2 linked regions of the Homo sapiens genome follow. The protein of the gene in region 2 purifies or fractionates together with the protein of the main gene of each other region. This does not show direct contact. Each region holds a gene or a part of one and is shown on either strand. Other genes may lie near its edges.

Evidence for each region. Proteins that work in one complex are often made in the same cells at the same time.
Region 1: the proteins of MOK (region 2) and ZNF223 purify together in Homo sapiens (affinity purification with mass spectrometry, with the first as the bait; one large-scale study listed by BioGRID). This does not show direct contact.

Annotation. Positions count from the first base shown.
Region 1 is NC_000019.10:44,062,036-44,065,267, reverse strand, and holds part of ZNF223 (zinc finger protein 223), read right to left. Parts: intron 1,951-3,232; exon of another isoform or gene 1,702-1,950; intron 1-1,701. UniProt on the Homo sapiens protein: May be involved in transcriptional regulation.
Region 2 is NC_000014.9:102,301,401-102,307,408, forward strand, and holds the start of MOK (MAPK/MAK/MRK overlapping kinase), read right to left. Parts: upstream 3,765-6,008; 5' UTR 3,569-3,764; coding exon 3,562-3,568; intron 1-3,561. UniProt on the Homo sapiens protein: Able to phosphorylate several exogenous substrates and to undergo autophosphorylation. Negatively regulates cilium length in a cAMP and mTORC1 signaling-dependent manner.

The sequences.
Region 1 (3,232 bases), on a different chromosome or scaffold from region 2:
AAGAAAAGGAGTTAACCTAACTAAAAAGAGGTCAGGACTTTGTCCTCAGTATCTGAGAGGTAATCTGTAGAATCTTGAAGGGGCATGCCTGAGGAGAGTCTCTCTGTTTGCTTGGGGGCAAATCTTGGGTAACTCTTGACAGTGAAATAATATAATTTAGGGTTGTGACTAGCCACAGCTTTGGGGGATGGGAAATGGCAGGTGGCATTCCCCATGTCAGAAAAAATAACGATGTGATTTAATGTAGGTCTTTAGGTCACAGGGAACCAGTGGACCAAAAGACTAAATAACCACACAGGAATCAACCAACCAATTATGGCTATGTAATGGAGCCCCAATAATTACTTGGATCCCAGCACTCAGTTGAGTTTCCCTGATTGGTGGTTCCTTGTGTCTAAGTCACATGCTAATTTTGGGTATGTAACATGCCCGACTCTACTGTGAGAATACAATAGGAGATCCACATTTGGTACTTCACTGGACTCTGTCTTATTTGGTTTTTCCCCCTTGGTTAACTATAATATGCATCTTTTGCTTGTAAAAATCAGTAACTGTGAGAATAAATACATCCAGTGAGTTCTGAGGGTCTTTCTAGGAAATTATTGAATGTGAAGGTAGTTTTGAAAAACTGCCGAATTTGCACTTGGAGTGAAGTGAGAGCAGTTCTCTGTAAAATGTCCCATTAAACTTTTTAGTTTAACCCTTCATGATACTAAACATCAAACACCTTAGAATGTTTATATCTACAAATCGAAAGTATTCCTATACAAGAATTTTGCATGACACATATAAAATACTTAATCTTATTTTTCTGTTTTGATATGGATGATAAGTTGGTTATCTGAAAGAGTACAGAGACAGACAACTGCAGTTCTGAGGGGAATCTGAAAGGCTGTCCTTCCAGAGGTCCACAAAGGAGGATGCTCTTCATCAGACAATCAATGATGTGAAGAATCACTTGGAATGAAAAGAAAGCCTATGATGTAGATAAACAGGCCTTTTTAACTGTTTTTATATTCAAGACTACACATCAGTGAGCTGAAATAAAGTTAAAACCTTCAATAGACATTTATAGAAAGGAGCCAGAATGAAAATTATCACAGTGTGGAGACAAGCAGGAAAGGTGTCGTTACATGAAATGTCAGCTAAAGTCACTCACATACACCTACATGCATGAAAACTGTCCAGGTTATACTGAAAGAGGTGTTTCTTATTATGGTTCATGCTCACAAAATGTTCAAAACTTTGTCAGGATATTACCAAGTCCTGAATTAGGTAAATTTTTCTGATGGAGAGTTAAGTTCCAAAGGTTGAAACTTGGAAAATATTAATAGGTAAGTGGGTACCCATCAGTATACCTAGCCAAACTCCACCCTTAAGCCTAGAACCTCAGCCCTAAGTGAAAACAGATGACCCCATTTTTCTGCCCCAATGTTGCTTTTTTTGGCCTGCCTGCCACTATCCTGTGACCATAAAAGATTTCAGCTGGCAGAGCAACACAAGCAGCTGAGTGGCAAGGATACAAGTCGCTGAGCGGTGAGCAGAGAAGCAACTGAGTGTCGGAAAGTATGGATAGATGTGGCTAACTTCAGAAGGTGCTGCTTTGGAGAGGGGCCCAGCCACAAATGGCCTGGCTTCAGGAACATGTTGATCCCCTTCCCAGCCCCTTTCCAGCCTCCTTTTCTGCTGAGAACCACTCACCACTCAATAAAGTCTTCTGCGTTCATCACCTTTCACACAGTTCATGTGACCTGGTTCTTCCTGGATGCTGGACAAGAACCCAGGTGCCAAGAGGGCAGGGGCTGCTACCCTGATGCTCCACTGAGCTGATTGGCACTTGGCCATCCCCAGATGGCAGAGCTGAAACAGCATGGGTTGTAACATGCTTGGACACTGCTGTGGGGCGTGCATAACAGAGCCTGCTCTCGCCAGAGAGGAGCGACCAGCCAATTCCAGCATTCATTTGCTCCGGTTCCTGCACTTGCTCGCTTGCACACTCCCTCCTGCAAGGAATCGACAGCGGTGGGCTGAGTGAAACAAACCCTGAAGTTCCTGCCCGCAAAGATGGTCAAGGGAACAATCCTGTCTAATAGGTACATGGATATATTTAATACACTGTGACTTATAAATAAGAGGTCTTTAAGGAGATGGGAAGGGGTCTCAGGATGTTTCTATTTTGAGTAAGTAATTCCCCAATTCCTTCCAGGTCATAAAGCTTACTAGTTCAAAATATAGCACTAAATCTATAAAAATAAACAAAAAGCCTGTCCTTTAACTTTTTGACAATTAAATTTGCATAATGTAAAGAAAAGGGAAATACGCACATTTTTGAAGAAAGATGACCAGAAACAGAGTCAACATTCAGCTACATAACTTGTGTCCTCTCATCCTCATTCTTCCCCCTCTAAGGGAAGGAAGGAGGAACTGGAGGCAGTGAAGTGTGGGCCGACTTTGGAAAAGGCAAATGGGCTGCAGATGGGTAAATCTCTCAAAGGAAAGCTAGCTGCAAATCCTCATTCAAAAAGACTTTCTTCTCAGATATAAATATGCTCCCTATGGAAAGCTCCAGGGTAGGTCCCAGGGAAGGCATATTACTCAGTGTGGTCATGAAAAAAAAAATGCTATGCTTAGAAGTTTCCACAGGACATGGGTCAACTGCACACACATAAAACCAATCATGTCAAGGAAACCTAAGAAAGTTGAAAATGGATAAGCAGCCATCCACAGAGAAAAAAAAAATCTGTTCTGCAATATATAATCAGCCCTCCATATCCATGGGTTTGGCATCCATGGATTCAACCAACAGGACATAAAAAATATTTAGGGAAAAAAATTCCAGTTCCAAAGAGCAAAACTGGAATTTCTCACACACTGAGTCCTATGTTGAATCCTTGTGAATGAAGTGACAGGTAGGCATTGCATTTGGTATTATAACTGGTCTAGACATGATTTAAAGTATATGGGAGGATGTACATAGGTTATAGGCAAAGACTTCACATATATCAGGAACTTGAACATCTCTGGCTTTCGGTATCCATGTGGGGTCCTGAAATCAAACCCCTATGGCTTCCAAGGGACTAATATATTTCATACACTCTGGTTCATGTATTACTTATTAGCTAGCTCCATGATTCCTACAGACAGTGAAGTCCCCCCATCCATTAATTCATTCATCAGGATACCAAATATTTACAGATCCCTCCATGTACTAGGACTATTCTAGGCACTGAAG
Region 2 (6,008 bases):
TGCCAAATAAAAAGAAGGACAGGAATACTCCACAGAATAACACACCCCTAAACACAGGGCATCACCTAGAAAACAAGTACAAAAATATACCTAGAAAATCCTGACAGACCCCTGTAATAATCTAGCATTCCCAGCCCCACTCTGACCCCAAGCTATGGATCCAATTTCACCATTACTCACTTTTCCTGATCATTCTACTTCTATAACTCTGTCTCTGTGATTTCCAGTTCTGGAATATTCTCTCCATTGTTAACTATTTTTAAATCATTTATTTAATGATCAGGATGTAAACCAGGGGGATAAAAGGTTACAATAATTCTTAGAGTACATTTTAAGGTAGAAGGAAGAAAGGGAGAATAAAGATGTCACCACTAAACCAAGTAACCGAAAACTACCAAAATGACCATCTAAAAGAACATACCAAACAATACTAAATATACTTTAAAAACAAAAGTTTACAAGAAGTAAATCATAAATGTACATTTTTTGTGTATTTTGTTTTGTTTTGATTTTTTTTTTCTTGTATTTTTTGGTTGAGATGGGGTTTCACCACATTGGCCAGGCTGGTCTCGAACTCCTGACCTCAAGTGATCAGCCAACCTCGGCGTCCCGAAGTGCTGGGATTACAGGCGTGAGCCACTGCACCCGCCCCATAAATGTAAATTTTATATGTATACACACATATACTTTTTTTTTTTTTTTTGCTCTGTTGCCCAGGCTGGAGTGCAGTAGTGCGATCTCAGCTCACTGCAACGCCCCCCTCCCAGGTTCAAGCGATTCCCCTGCCTCAGCCTCCCAAGTAGCTGGGATTACAGGCACCTGCCACCACGCCTGACTAATTTTTGTATTTTTAGTAGAGACGGGGTTTCACCATGTTGACCAGGCTGGTCTCGAACTCCTGACCTCAAGTGATCCACCCACCTCAGCCTCTCAAAGTGCTGGGATTACAGGCGTGAGCCACTGCACCCGGCCCACAAATGTAAATTTTATATATATATACGCATATATACATATTTATTTTCTTTTTTTTTGAGACGGAGTCTCTTGCTTTGTTGCCCAGGCTGCAGTACAGTGGCCCGATCTCAGCTCACTGCAAGCTCTGCCTCCCAGGTCCACGCCATTCTCCTGCCTCAGCCTCCCGAGTAGCTGGGACTACAGGTGCCCACCACCACGCCTGGCTAATTTTTTGTATTTTTAGTAGAGCCGGGGTTTCACCGTGTTAGCTGGGATGGTATTGATCTCCTGAACTCGTGATCTGCCCGCCTCGGCCTCCCAAAGTGTTGGCATTACAGGTGTGAGCCACTGCGCCCAGGCAGCATATGTACATATTTCTATATAGGTATACACATGCAGTGCTAACATTAGTCTTTTAAAAAGGGAGAAATACACATTTATATATTTATATATAATATATATAGAGAGAGTAAATTACTGAAAGTGATGCCTCTAGGTAGTGGGGTATGAAGAGTCTAAGAGGAAGGCCAGGCACAGTGGCTCGCGTCTGTAATTCCAACACTTTGGGAGGCTGAGGCGGGTGGATCGCTTGACGTCAGGAGTTTGAGACCAGCCTGGCCAACATGTTGAAACCCCGTCTCTACCAAAAAATACAAGTTAGCTGGGCGTGGTGGTGCACACCTGTAATCTCAGCTACTTGGGAGGCTGAGGTAGGAGAATCACTTGAACCCGGGAGGCAGAGGTTGCAGTGAGCCAAGATTGCACCACTGCACTCCAGCCAGGGTGACACAGAGAGACCCTGTCCAAAAAAAAAAAGAGTCTAAGAGAAAAAGAAGGTAGATAAATAAACCAAATGATCAAATCTAACTTCAGCAAAACTGCAACGAACTGACATCAGGCACTCTGGAAGGGCCACACTGACAGAGACACAACGTTGCCTCTCACATATTCCTGGTAAAAACATTTAAGCTGAAGCTAATCATGAGGCGAAAATCAGACAAATCCAAATTGAGCGATATTCTGCAAAACACTGGGCTGGATTCTTTAAAAATGTCATTTGGCCTACAGAGGACAGCCAAATAAAAATGAAAATATCATTGTCATGAAAGACACAAAAGGCAGGGACACCATATTAAAAGAGACCAAAGAGATATGACAACAGAATACAATTGGTGATTCTTGATTGGATAGAAAAAATATAAACAACTATAACACATGTTATTGGGATAAATGGAAAAACTGAAATATGGACTGTGTATCAGAGTATTGTATCATTGTTAAATTTTCTAAATGTGTTATTTGTACTGTGATGATGTAGGAGAATGTCCTTGTTCTTGGCAGATAACTGCTGAAAGAAGTGGTGAATTATTAGTAGTCTACAACTAACTCTTGAAAGGTCCAGTGAAAATAAATACATAAATGGGAGAGAGAAAACACCAGAGCGAAAGCGAGCACACAAAAATAAGGCAAAATGGTGCAGCTAAGTGAAGGACGGGTTTATAAATATTCAATGTACTGCTCTTGCAACTTTCCTGTACATCTGAAAATTTTCAAAACAAACAGATGGGAAGAAAAAAATGAATATAGTACAAAATATGTGCAGTATCATAGTCTGCACTGTAAGTAAAAGTGTAAAGTCTTTTGTAGACCTTGGATTCTAACTACAGCTTTGTAGTGCATTAATGAAAAAGGTAAACATTAAACAATATCCAACAAAATAAAATAAAAATAAAAATGCCTTGTAAAGGGTGAATGAGATTAATTATTTTAAATGTTATGCAATGTACACCATTGACAATTAGGATACAATGCAAATTTAACATTATAACTACTCCTAACATAATATTTTCACAGCAAAGGTCTGAATTTTTACTGCACCTCTGGTTCACAACCATAAACAATTATATCTGTACAGTAATAATAATTTTAAAAACATCATTCTAGCTGGTTGCACTTGGATTGTCAATAATCCACAAATCCCACTAAAGAAAATTTTTTACCCGTTACATTTTCTAGAATGACTACCTCATTTCCCAACTTTGAAGTAACAGCTTTTAACTAAAAGGTTGCTTCAAAACTACTATTAAAAAGTGGTTCCTATAAAACACTACTGCTTGACCCAAAAAATAAAATAAAGCACACAGCCCAGCTTTCCTCTCAATTGGTCACTAAACCAGTATCATGAAAAGGCAGGGAGCCACGCTGTAAGCGCTCCCCCGTTTTCTGCCGAATGTTCAGGAAAAGAGTGTCAGGTTCAAGCCAGCATTTAAAATAAAATAAAATGAATCACAGTCAACTCCCTAAACTCCAATGTAAGAACCACGCACCTGCACCAAAATATGCCTGAGCGGGAACTCGAGTCGGCTCTCCGAGACCCCAAAGTTCCCAACCTAGCCCCAACCCCTCAAGCTTCCCCCAGGGGCACCGGCTTCTCACAGCCGAGGGGGATTCGGGGCCCACATGCGGAGCCTCCCGGGCCTGTCGAGCCACGGCAGAAGGCGACGACGCCCGGCCCCACAGGCCCCTCAAGCTCCTCAAGCTCCCCCAGTCCCTCCCTCCCCCGCCACTCGCTCTCCAGTCCCTGCCCCTTTCCCCGGCCCCACTCACTCTTCATCTTGGATGCGGAAGCCGGTGACAACCCCTTGCCGACACTGGACGGAAAAGAAAGAAGCAGGAAGGTTGTCCCCCTGCTTTCCACTTCCCTGAGGCGGGGTCCCGCACTAGGATCTCCGTGGTGGTCCCTCGAAGGAGAGCGTTAGAGATCCCGCCGCCATGTTGTGTCCCTGTCACCCTAGCAACCGTCAGGCCCTGAACGCCATGAGCTGTCGCCTGCGCATGCGCAAGATGCCCCGCCCATGTACGCGTGCGCAGTGCAGCCCGTCCCCTCAGCCCGGTTGCTAAGCAGCCTTTCCTCCGCTTCCATGTAAATACTGTGCAAATCCCCGCCTTTGACACAGGCGACCTTCGCTCGGCTCGCTCTCCCTGCTGGCCTGGGAACTTAGCGATTTGGAACCCACTACGTGGACGATAGCCTTGAGCTTTAATTGGGCTTGGGAGCTTCTACAGGAATTTTTTTTTTTTTTTGAGACAGAGTGTCGCTCTGTTACCCAGGTTGGGGTGCAATGGCGTGATCTCGGCTCACTGCAACCTCCGCCTCCCGGCTTCAAGCGATTCTCCTGCCTCAGCCTCCCAAGTAGCTGGGATTACAGGCACCCACCACTACACCCGGCTAATGTTTTTGTATTTTTAGTAGAGACGGGGTTTCACCATGTTAGGCTGGTCTCGAACTCCTGACCTCAGGTGATCCGCCTGCCTCGGCCTCCCGAAGTGCTGGGATTACAGGCGTGAGCCACCACGCCCGGCCCAGTTTTTCTTTTTAATTCAACAAGCATTTGTTTTTGCCCCAGGAACTGTCGCAGGTATTGGGGATTAAAGGACAGTGTAGACGAGGTGACTGAGTTCTTGAAACTAACATTCTAGTGTAAAGATGAATGAATGTACACCGGAATGAACTATGTGCAGACACGGTGCCTAAGCAACACAGTGGCCTAGTTCTCTGGACCCTGACAAAACAATAAAATAACAAGCATACTATGTATGGGTATAGTATTTTATGAAGCTCATTAGATTAGCCTCATAATTATTCCATGAGATCAAAACCCTGTTTTTTCCTCCATTTTTTTTCTTTTACTAAAATACATCGTTTATTTTTAAAACAGATAAGTAGCCTTGCCAAAACGAAGCCTCAGAAAATTGGTTTAAGACTGAATTGGCCAGGTGTGGTGGCTCACACCTGTAATCCCAGCACTTTGGAAGGCCGAGGCAAGAGGATCGCTTGAGGCCAGAAATTCAAGACCAGCCTGGGCAACATAGAGAAACCCCACTTCCCTCTTAAAAAAAAAAAAAAAAAAACTCCGGGCGTGGTGGCTCACGCCTGTAATCCCAGCACTTTGGGAGGCCAAGGCGGGCAGATCACGAGGTCAGGAAATCGAGACCATCCTGGCTAACACGGTGAAACCCCATCTCTACTAAAAATACAAAAAAAATTAGCCGGGCGTAGTGGCGGGCGCTATAGTTCCAGCTACTCCGGGGGCTGAGGCAGGAGAATGGCGTGAACCCTGGAGGCGGAGCTTGCAGTGAGCCGAGATTGCACCACCTGCACTGCAGCCTGGGCGACAGAGCAAGAGACTCAAAAAAAAAAAAAAAAAAAAAAAAAAGCCGGGCACGGTGGCACATGCCTGTAAACCCAGCTATTCAGGAGAATAAGGCGGAGGTATCTTGAGACCAGGAGTTCTAGGCTCAGTGAGCTATGATAGCACCACTGCACTCTAGCCTGGGTGACAAAGCAAGACCTTGTCTCGAAAGAAAGAGAAAGCGGCCGGTCGCGGTGGCTCACACCTGCAATCCCAGCACGTTGGGCGGCCGAGGCAGGCAGATCACTTGAGTCCAGGAGTTCGAGACCAGCCTGGCCAACATGGGGGAAACCCCGTCTCTACTAAAAAAATACAAAACGGCTGGGCACAGTGGCTGATGCCTGTAATCCCAGCACTTTGGGAGGCCAAGGCGGGTGGATCCCCAGGTCAGGAGTTCAAGACTAGCCTGGCCAAGATGGTGAAACCCCATCTCTACTGAAAATAGAAAAATGAGCCGGGTGTGGTGGCAGGCACCTGTAATCCCAGCTACTCGGGAGGCTGAGGCAGAGAATTGCTTGAACCCGGGAGGCGGAGGTTGCAGTGAGCCGAGATTGCGCCACTGCACTCCAGCCTGGGCGACAGAGTGAGACTCCGTCTAAAAAAGCAAATACATAAATAAAATACAAAACAAGCCAGGCGTGGTGGCTCACACCTATAATCCCAGCACTTTGGGAGGCCGAGGAGGATGGACCAACTGAGGTCAGGAATTCGAGACCAGCTGGCCAACCAACATGGTGAAACCCTGTCACTACTAAAAATACAAAAATTAGCCAGGTGTGGTGATGCGCTCCTGTAATCCCAGCTACTCAGGAGGCTGAGGCGGGAGAATCACTTGAACCCAGGAGGTGGAGGCTACAGTGA